3 separate regions of the Homo sapiens genome follow, and all the other regions are linked to region 1. The links come from fine-mapping of genetic effects on gene expression. A gene starts in region 1. Each other region holds a variant in brackets. All regions are shown on one strand. Distances are from middle to middle.

The links. PIP is the estimated chance that this variant, and not a neighbour inherited with it, causes the effect. A credible set is the group of variants that fine-mapping cannot tell apart.
Region 2: its variant is the best candidate, but not a certain one, in a credible set for the expression of MARCHF1 in whole blood (INTERVAL, PIP 0.74).
Region 3: its variant is the best candidate, but not a certain one, in a credible set for the expression of MARCHF1 in whole blood (TOPMed, PIP 0.52).

The regions. Positions count from the first base shown.
Region 1 is chr4:164,382,739-164,385,508 of GRCh38, forward strand. MARCHF1 (membrane associated ring-CH-type finger 1) reads right to left here and starts at 1,281. Exons shown (of 10, transcript NM_001394959.1): 1 at 1,132-1,281. RefSeq lists an enhancer at 509-1,010.
Region 2 is chr4:163,406,445-163,409,214 of GRCh38, forward strand. No RefSeq gene overlaps it. Among named protein-coding and RNA genes, the nearest start is that of NPY5R, 64 kb to the left of the region's middle. The variant T/G (reference allele first, on the strand shown) is at 1,543.
Region 3 is chr4:163,653,567-163,656,336 of GRCh38, forward strand. All of the region lies in intron 5 of MARCHF1 (membrane associated ring-CH-type finger 1), which reads right to left. Among named protein-coding and RNA genes, the nearest start is that of TMA16, 160 kb to the left of the region's middle. The variant G/T (reference allele first, on the strand shown) is at 1,198.

The sequences.
Region 1 (2,770 bases):
CCAAGCAAAAAGCCAGGGGGTTGGGTGTTGGCATGTTGGCTATATAGCACTTATAGGCGAGACAACTCTAAACTAAGGTACCTGAGCAGGTTCAGAATCTTTTTTCGTCAAACCCACAGAGCTCTATAATAGAAAACATTTTGATCTCAAAAATGTTTAGCAAGCAAATCTTTTCTGGAACTACTGAATAACAATAAGAATTGCCAGGAAAACGTGAGGCTCTCTAACTACATATTGGCCATGCCTCTGATTCCATTCACCTGTCACAAATCTCCAAAATCAGCGCTTCAGAAACCAGAGAAAAGAGCGAGAGTGAGTCTCCCTTAACTTTGCCATTTCCCTCACACCATTTGGGGATAAAACTTGGGCGTCTCTCTGCCTCGACTGGTCACTCCACTTCCTGGAGCTCCAGAAACTCCCTCAGCACCTGGATAACTGCGACACTCACCCGTGAGCGCAGGACCCTCCTGGCGTCTTAAGTCCCAGCTCTCAGTCCCGCTGGCCGCAGGAACACAATGACATCTCTCGCCCAGGAGGGCGGTTGCAGGGAACCGAAATCGGACACAACAGTTGCAGTGAACCCGACTCAGGGTTGAGCGCATCAGCGCTAAACCCAAGACAAAGGCTGCCCTGTGTCTTCCGTACTCAGCGCTCTCCTTTGGTAATCGGTCCCCGTCCCCTTCAAGCCCACACTAGGAGCGCGTGAGCCTGTGAAGTGGCTGTCATCGACTCCGCGCTTTCCGAGGGGTGCGGCTCCGTGACTAGTACCACGCCGGTGTAAACAGCGCGCCGCGCACTGGGGATCCGCCAGAAACGGCGCGCGCGCAGAGCGGGCGCTGGGGGCCAATAGTAGCAACTACCCCAGGCTGCGGGCTGGAGCCGCCTCCTCTCACCAGAGAGGCGCCTACTGGGCGAGCCCGCCGCCCGCAGGTTGGGTGGCAGCACCCGCCGCGAACCCCAGCCACGCTCCCCAGTGGACCCACCAGGCAAAGGCACCTGCTGCCTGCCCTCCAGGGCTGATGCTGTGCCAAGCCCCGCTCGGGATCAGGGACAAGCCGCCCAGGACTACCAGCCGGAGAGAAGGGGCTCCCAGTGAGGCTGATTGAATGAATGATGTTTGCAGTCACTTACCGGCGGAGGGTGAAGTAGCTCAGGCGGCCGCCAGGCTGCGTGCGGCCGGCATCCCGGGGCGCGGGCATTCTCCCATCCTTTGTCAGTTGCGGGTGGAGCGCTCCTCCCCAGCTAGCGGACGAGCAGCCGGGTGGCAGGCAGCCCGGCTCTGGCTCGGCTCCCCAGTCCTCTCCCCTCCTCTGCTCCCCCTCCCCTTCTCCGTCCCCCTCTCTGAGCCGGCATTCACTGGGCTCCCATGATGTCATCCAGTGGAAATCTGCCATGCTCAAAGACTGGAATAATCCAGCGCTCACGCGGGGAACGCAGAGCAGGCGGAGGAGGCAACAGAGCCTCTAGGAGTTCCCAGAACTAGCATCTCCAGGTTAACTGGAGTCAAGGACAGGACATAGGGGAGTCTGCGGAAAGCAGGCTCCGAGGGTGTATGTGGGCCGGGTGGGCGCGGTGGGGATGGGGCCGGGGATGAAGAGCCTCTTCTTTGCCGTAAAGATTCCTAAATCAGTACTTAAACTGATGGCAGATGCCAAGGATAAGGAGAAAGTTTTTTTCTGGCTGCTCAGTAGCTCAGGTGCCCCATCTCGGTGATGGACACCTACACTGCAGCCACGATAATAATTAGAACCCCTGGAACCCTCAGAGCCCTAGTCACAATGAGAAAGTTTAGGATGTCTGACCAATGACAGCTTAAATGATGAGCAGCTAAAGTGAGGGAGAAAGATGTGTACTGTTTACAGGCGGGAGTCTGAGGCAAAACATTAAACAACGAGGGGACCTCAACAATCTATGACATGAACACCGAAAAGACCGCTGGTCTGAGGCAAGAAGGCACCAGTAGCAATTCACTCCTAGCCTTAGTATTGACCTCCTGTCTTCCCACCATATACTAATGGACACTCGAGAAGCGACTCTCTTGTGGCCTCACCCAAAGACTGTCATCAATGATGAAACTATTTAAATCACAAGGTTTATTGAAACTCATAAAAGGTGCGATGCCAAATCTTTTGCTCAAGATTCTATATAACATCAATAGAAGTTTTATTAGAGGAATAGACAAACAGCCTGAGTATTTTTGAAGATTCCGCTCTTTTCATGGAAACAGGCAGATACACCAGATCTGAGACCCAGCCCTACAGCAATCTAGAGCAGCTTCATGTCAAAAACTCTCCTGTTCAGGGACCAGATTTCAACAGCTCATGGTTTGTGCTCTAATCAGTCCAAGCTTCAAGGAGGCTCTTGAGTTCCCAGGATTACCTACCACCTGTCATTCCTGGAAGAGACTAAGCTTGCAGAGAAAAGTACCAGCAGCCAGTGCTGATTAGGCAGTCTTCAGTGAGAGTGCTGGGTGGGAACGTGCAGCCTCTGCCGCTGCATTCATCACCATTATCCTTTACAAGTGTGAAGACTAAGAATAACATTTATTACAAGTGTAGATACGGTTAGAAACTCCTTAATCTTTGTAAATACAAAGAGGACTCAATAAAATAATAACAACAACAATTTAAAGGCTACTCACTATCAGATAGGCTTCTTATTGCATTGTGAAATTGTGAAATCCAATGGGACTTTTCTGAGGAAAAAGTAATAAGTATGAAAAAGCAGCATCAGAAATTATTTTAAAAAATAAACTATCAGTGTAATGGAT
Region 2 (2,770 bases), 980 kb before region 1:
TTAAATTTCATAATAATAAAACATTTCCTCGCAATATATTTTAAAGCATACTTTTAGTAAGTGGAATAATAGTATGGAATAACGAAAGTGGATCCTTTCATAAAGGGAAATTCACTTTACCAAAAGCCCAATGAGAATCATACTATGGAAAGAGGGCAGCATTAGAAAACCAGTAGGTAATATCTCATGAACTGTGATGAATATATTTCAAATAAAATCAGTTTTTAAAATTCTGCTGAAGTGCTACTTCCCAGAATATGGAGTGACTGTAATCTTGTTTATTTACTATGTGATTTACTTAGGAATATACATAAGACTGCATCATCTTGACCACTGATAACTACATGGTTGTTTATGTGGTTGCTTGAGACTCTTTTGCAGAGTTGTGCCTTTTAAAACTAAAGAGTTGTTAGTTTCATTTAAAAGAAAAAAAAGAAATTACATGCAACTCAAAAAGATTTGGAGCAAATACTATGTAAAATATAATGAGGGTCTTTCCTCCATTCCAGGAAATTTAAGAACACTTTTATATTCTATGATGAGGTCTTCTGAAACTGGAGCCCATAAAGTGCTATTTCTAAAGTAGTATATTTCAATAGATAACTTTCTTAGATAATATGTTTTTATTTCCTTAATTTTCTCAGTGTTTCAGTACATAAAATACTATCAAATTTATATTCCAGGAAGCTTTCAAAAGTATTTCAAAAACATGCTTAACAATTTTTAATGTGACCGATGTTATTTCCTAATGATATAGAAAGTCCTGTTGACCTTGTTATGTGAAAGCACATAATTAGGTTCCAAATTAGTGATCTGTTTAAACTTGATACTCCTGAAGTAGATGAGAGTCTGGTTTTAGGAGAGGCCCAAATTGAGGGATAAAGCTTTGCAAATGAGGCTCAACATTAGTCTATCCTGGTCTACATAATCCAGTTTAAGCTTCCTTAAATTACGGCTTTTCTACATTTCCCCCAAAATCCCTAGGCATATTTCTTCACTTTTAGGTAATGTAAGCATAAAGTAAGGAGAAAATGACATCTTGGGTTAATGTAATTAGGAGGTGAAAAGTCCACCAATGTGTTAAGATTTGAAACAATCTTTATCCAATACATATTTTCCACATTTTGATATTTTAGAACCTAAAATTCACAAGTAGACACTTGGCAAGAAAAAAGTGACAACATACACTTCCTACCCTAATACTTGGGTATATAATAAATCTTTTGTGCCTTGTACATAATAGGTGCACAATAGATGTTTGTTGAATGAATGAATGAATAAATGAATGAAAATATTGTCTGTGTAGGTTTATCCTAACTTGTGGAAAGCATACACTAATGAATTCTACCCTTTCTAGGCATATTTATATCTCTTACTATGATCTTAGGATCATATCCTTTAAGTGAAATTGCTTTTCTAAATCTAACACAGTTATGATATCATGTGATCAACAATGAGATCTTTTATTTGTTTTTAATTCCATCACAAAATAATAATTATTTGATGAGGAGATAATTACTGATCCTTAATCAAAAAGAAAGA[T/G]AATTCTGATTTGGTGAGTTTTCAATAAAGCTTATTAAGTCTACAGGGAAATATGGAGTTGGTGAAAGCTAGAAATTGGAATCTACAGTCAGTTGCCGAATAGCTTATTTCATCTCTTCATTTCAGTAAAAGACATGAAGCTGGCAAAGCCAATATTAAACTTGTTATCGAGTCCAAAAATTACTATACAGCGTTCATGAGAAGACTACAGCAATGCTTCCAGACTCAAACTGCTCTTAAAATTTCACTGAAGACAGATTCAGCCTAATTCATGAATATATTGAATTAGCATGACTACATGCTTTATTCAGGTCACTGAGGAGACTGAATTTATCTGCTTAGTGGGAAGGTCAACTGGAAGGGAATTAATTAAGGAGTGTTGGAAATGGATTACATTGTAAGCTTCCATATAGAATATAAAAGAAAATTAAGACCCAGAAGGTAAACATCAATAAGTAAGAGAAAAGGTGCACCAGGTTCGCATGGATTAAAGGTACATTTTAGTGAAAGAGAACAAATACATTTTCTGAGGACAAAAGGATATGGAAGTAAATTAAAGTACTTATGAACCTTAGCTAGTCATAAGAAAGATAGGCTCTTGTCTAACATTTAACTCCATCAGTCTTAGCAACTGCCTGAACACATGAAACTTTACAAAAAAACTTCCATTTCCTAATTTGGGGAACTTGGTTATTTTAAGTTTTGGCAAATTTGGTTTAGACTAGTATTTTAAAATTATTCTTTTTCTAATCTTTATGCCTCTAAGACCAACTATTAATAAACAAATATTACAAACTTAAACAGCTAGTCAAGCCTCTAAAAGCATATATAATATTATTCAAAATAAAAGTATTAAAGAATGAAGCCTGAGCAACAAGGCATAAGGAGCTAATTTAAAATTAAGATTTGGCATCTATGTATAACTTTTGACAGTTTTGTTGTTTTTTCCATTAAATACAGTACTCTTCTTTTTTTTTTTTTTTTTTTTTTTTTTTTTGAGACGGAGTCTTGCTCTGTCGCCCAGGCTGGAGTGCAGTGGCGCGATTTCGGCTCACTGCAAGCTCCGCCTCCTGGGTTCTCGCCATTCTCCTGCCTCAGCCTCCCGAGTAGCTGGGACTACAGGCGCCCGTCACCATGCCCGGCTAATTTTTTGTATTTTTTTTTTAATAGTTACGGGGTTTCACCGTGTTGGCCAGGAAGGTAACGATCTCCTGACCTCGTGATCCAC
Region 3 (2,770 bases), 730 kb before region 1:
AGTGGTTGGATTTAGGACATATGCTGAAGGACAAGTTTATGTAATTTGCTGGCCAACTGATTATGGGACAGTTTGAATGTCAGATAGGAGAAAAAGAAAGGAAAGAAGGTAGACATCAAGGTTTGGTTCTGAGGAACTAGATGAGTGGATTTGAAGATGAGGAGCACTCAGAGCTAAATGAGGATTTTCTTTGGACAGCTGAGTGTGAATTTTAGAGTTTGGGTTTGGAAACACAAGTTTGAGATGGCTATTAGAAATCCAAGTAAAGATGATGGGTATGTGTAGTTGGATATATAATATTGGAGTTATAAATGTTGGAATCACATTATATAAATGGTGTTTTAAACCATGGAATTGATATGATAACCTAGGAATTGAGTATAGATAGGAAAGAGAGACAAAGATACATCCCAATGCACTCTGATATTAGAGTTCAGAAAGGTAAAGATAAATCATTAAGAACCACCATGAATAGAAATCAGTCTGGTGGGAGGAAAGTCAACAGTGTGAGGCCTTAGAAATCAGATAACAAAGACAAGGCACTTGGAGAAGGATAGAGAGAACCATTGTGTTAAATATATGGTGACATAAACACTAATAACTATTTGGCAATGTGGGATTCATTGTTCACCTTGATCATTGAAACATGATGGTAGAAAGCCTGACTAGAGGATGTTCAAAACATAATTGAAATAGAAATCATGTCAGTAGCTATGGAGAGTTCTTTCCAGGAAAAACAAAATTAAAAAGTGCAAGAAAAAAGGAAAATTTGGGGCAGATGAAGTTTGTGTGATGTTTTAAAGTTCTGCCTTTGAAGCAGTTGAGAGATTGTAAAACCTACTCAAGAACATTAAATTCTCTCATTTTTAAATTATAAAATATATTAGGTATACAACAGGATAGAGGCCTCTATTCCTCTATTTCTTCCTGAAATTTTGATAACTTTTACTCTATATTTTTAAGACTGGGTTATTGGTGCATACAATTTAAGAATTAAGAGATCTTTTGGGTGAATTGTTCTCATTCTATAGTGTTCCTCTTCATCTTTGATAATTATTCCTGCCATAAAGTCAATTTTGTCTGATATTAGTATATCAACTCCAACTTTCTTTTGCCATTTATTGGCCTGTTATTTATTTCTTCTATCTATTTACTTTCGATCATCAGTGTCTTTCTTAGACTTTAGGTAAGTCACTT[G/T]TAAATTCCATACAGCTGAATTTTGCTTTCTTGAGTCACTTTTACAATCTGTCAATTTAATCTCTGTTTCATGACAATCTGTCATTAAACATTGAGTATGATTTGTATACATAAACTGTGATTAGTCATATAGATCTCTATTTATTTCTATTATCTTTTTATGTACTTCTTACTGGCCATGCTTCTTCTTTTCTTTGCCTCTTTTCTCTTTCTGCTTTCTACTATCTTGTTCAAATTTAATTTATGTACGTCTCTCCTTGTCACCCTCCCTTCCTCCCATTCACATGCATTTGGAAGTTACATATTCTATTTTTATGATTTTAAGATTACTGTTTACATTTCTAAAGTCATTCACTGATTTCTTGCTGAATGCTTAGCATTTCAAATACCTTAATTATTATTTTTGCTACTGTCTTACAATAGATGATTTATTTTTAGCTTTACTCTTTTGTTTATTCATTCATAATTTATTTTTGTATTTCATGACATTTCGTACTTAATTTTCTTCTTGAATAAGTAAATTTTTAAAGTTCTTTTAGTGATAATCTATGTAGTAAATGCCTTCAGAATTCATTTTATTTTATCTCTTGAAAAATAATTTAACTGAACTATCCTAAATACAGGAGCACCCAGATTCATGAAACAAGTTCTTAGAGACCTACAAAGAAACGTAGACTCCCACACAATAATAGTGGGAGACTTTAATACCCCACTGTCAATATTAGATGGATCGTCAAGTCAGAAAATGAACAAAGATATTTAGAACTTGAACTCAGCCCTGGATCAAGTGGACCTGATAGGTATCTACAGGACTCTCTACCCAAAACAACAGAATATACATTTTTCTTGGTGTTACATGGAACTTACTCTAAAATTGATTGCCTAATTGGAAGCAAAACACTCCTCAGCAAATGCAGAAGAACTGAAATCATAACAAACACTCTCTGAGACCACAGTGCAATCAAATTAGAACTCAAGATTAAGAAACTCACTCAAAACCACACAACTACATCGAAATTGAACAACCTGCTTCTGAATGACTCCTGAGTAAATAATGAAATTAAGGCAGAAATCAAGAAGTTCTTTGAAACTAATGAAAACAAAGAGACAACATGCCAGGATCTCTGGAATGCAGCTAAAGCAGTGTTAAAAGGGAAATTTATAGCACTAAATGACCACATCAGAAAGCTGGGAAGATCTCAAGTCAACATCCTGACATCACAACTGAAAAAACTAGAGAATCAAAAGCAAACAAACCCCAAAGCTAGCAGAAGACAAGAAATAATGAAGCTCAAAGCAGAACTGAAGGAGACAGAGACACAAAAAACCTTTCAAAAAACCAATGAATCCAGGAGCTGTTTTTTTTTTGAAAAAAATAATAAAATAGACCACTAGCTAGACAAATGAAGAAGAAAAGAAATTAAAATCAAACAGACATAATAAAAAATGACAAAGAGGATATCACCACTGATACCACAGAACTACAAACAACCATCAGGGAATACTATAAATACCTCTATGCAAATAAACAAGAAAATCTAGAAGAAATAAATAAATTCCTAGACACATATAC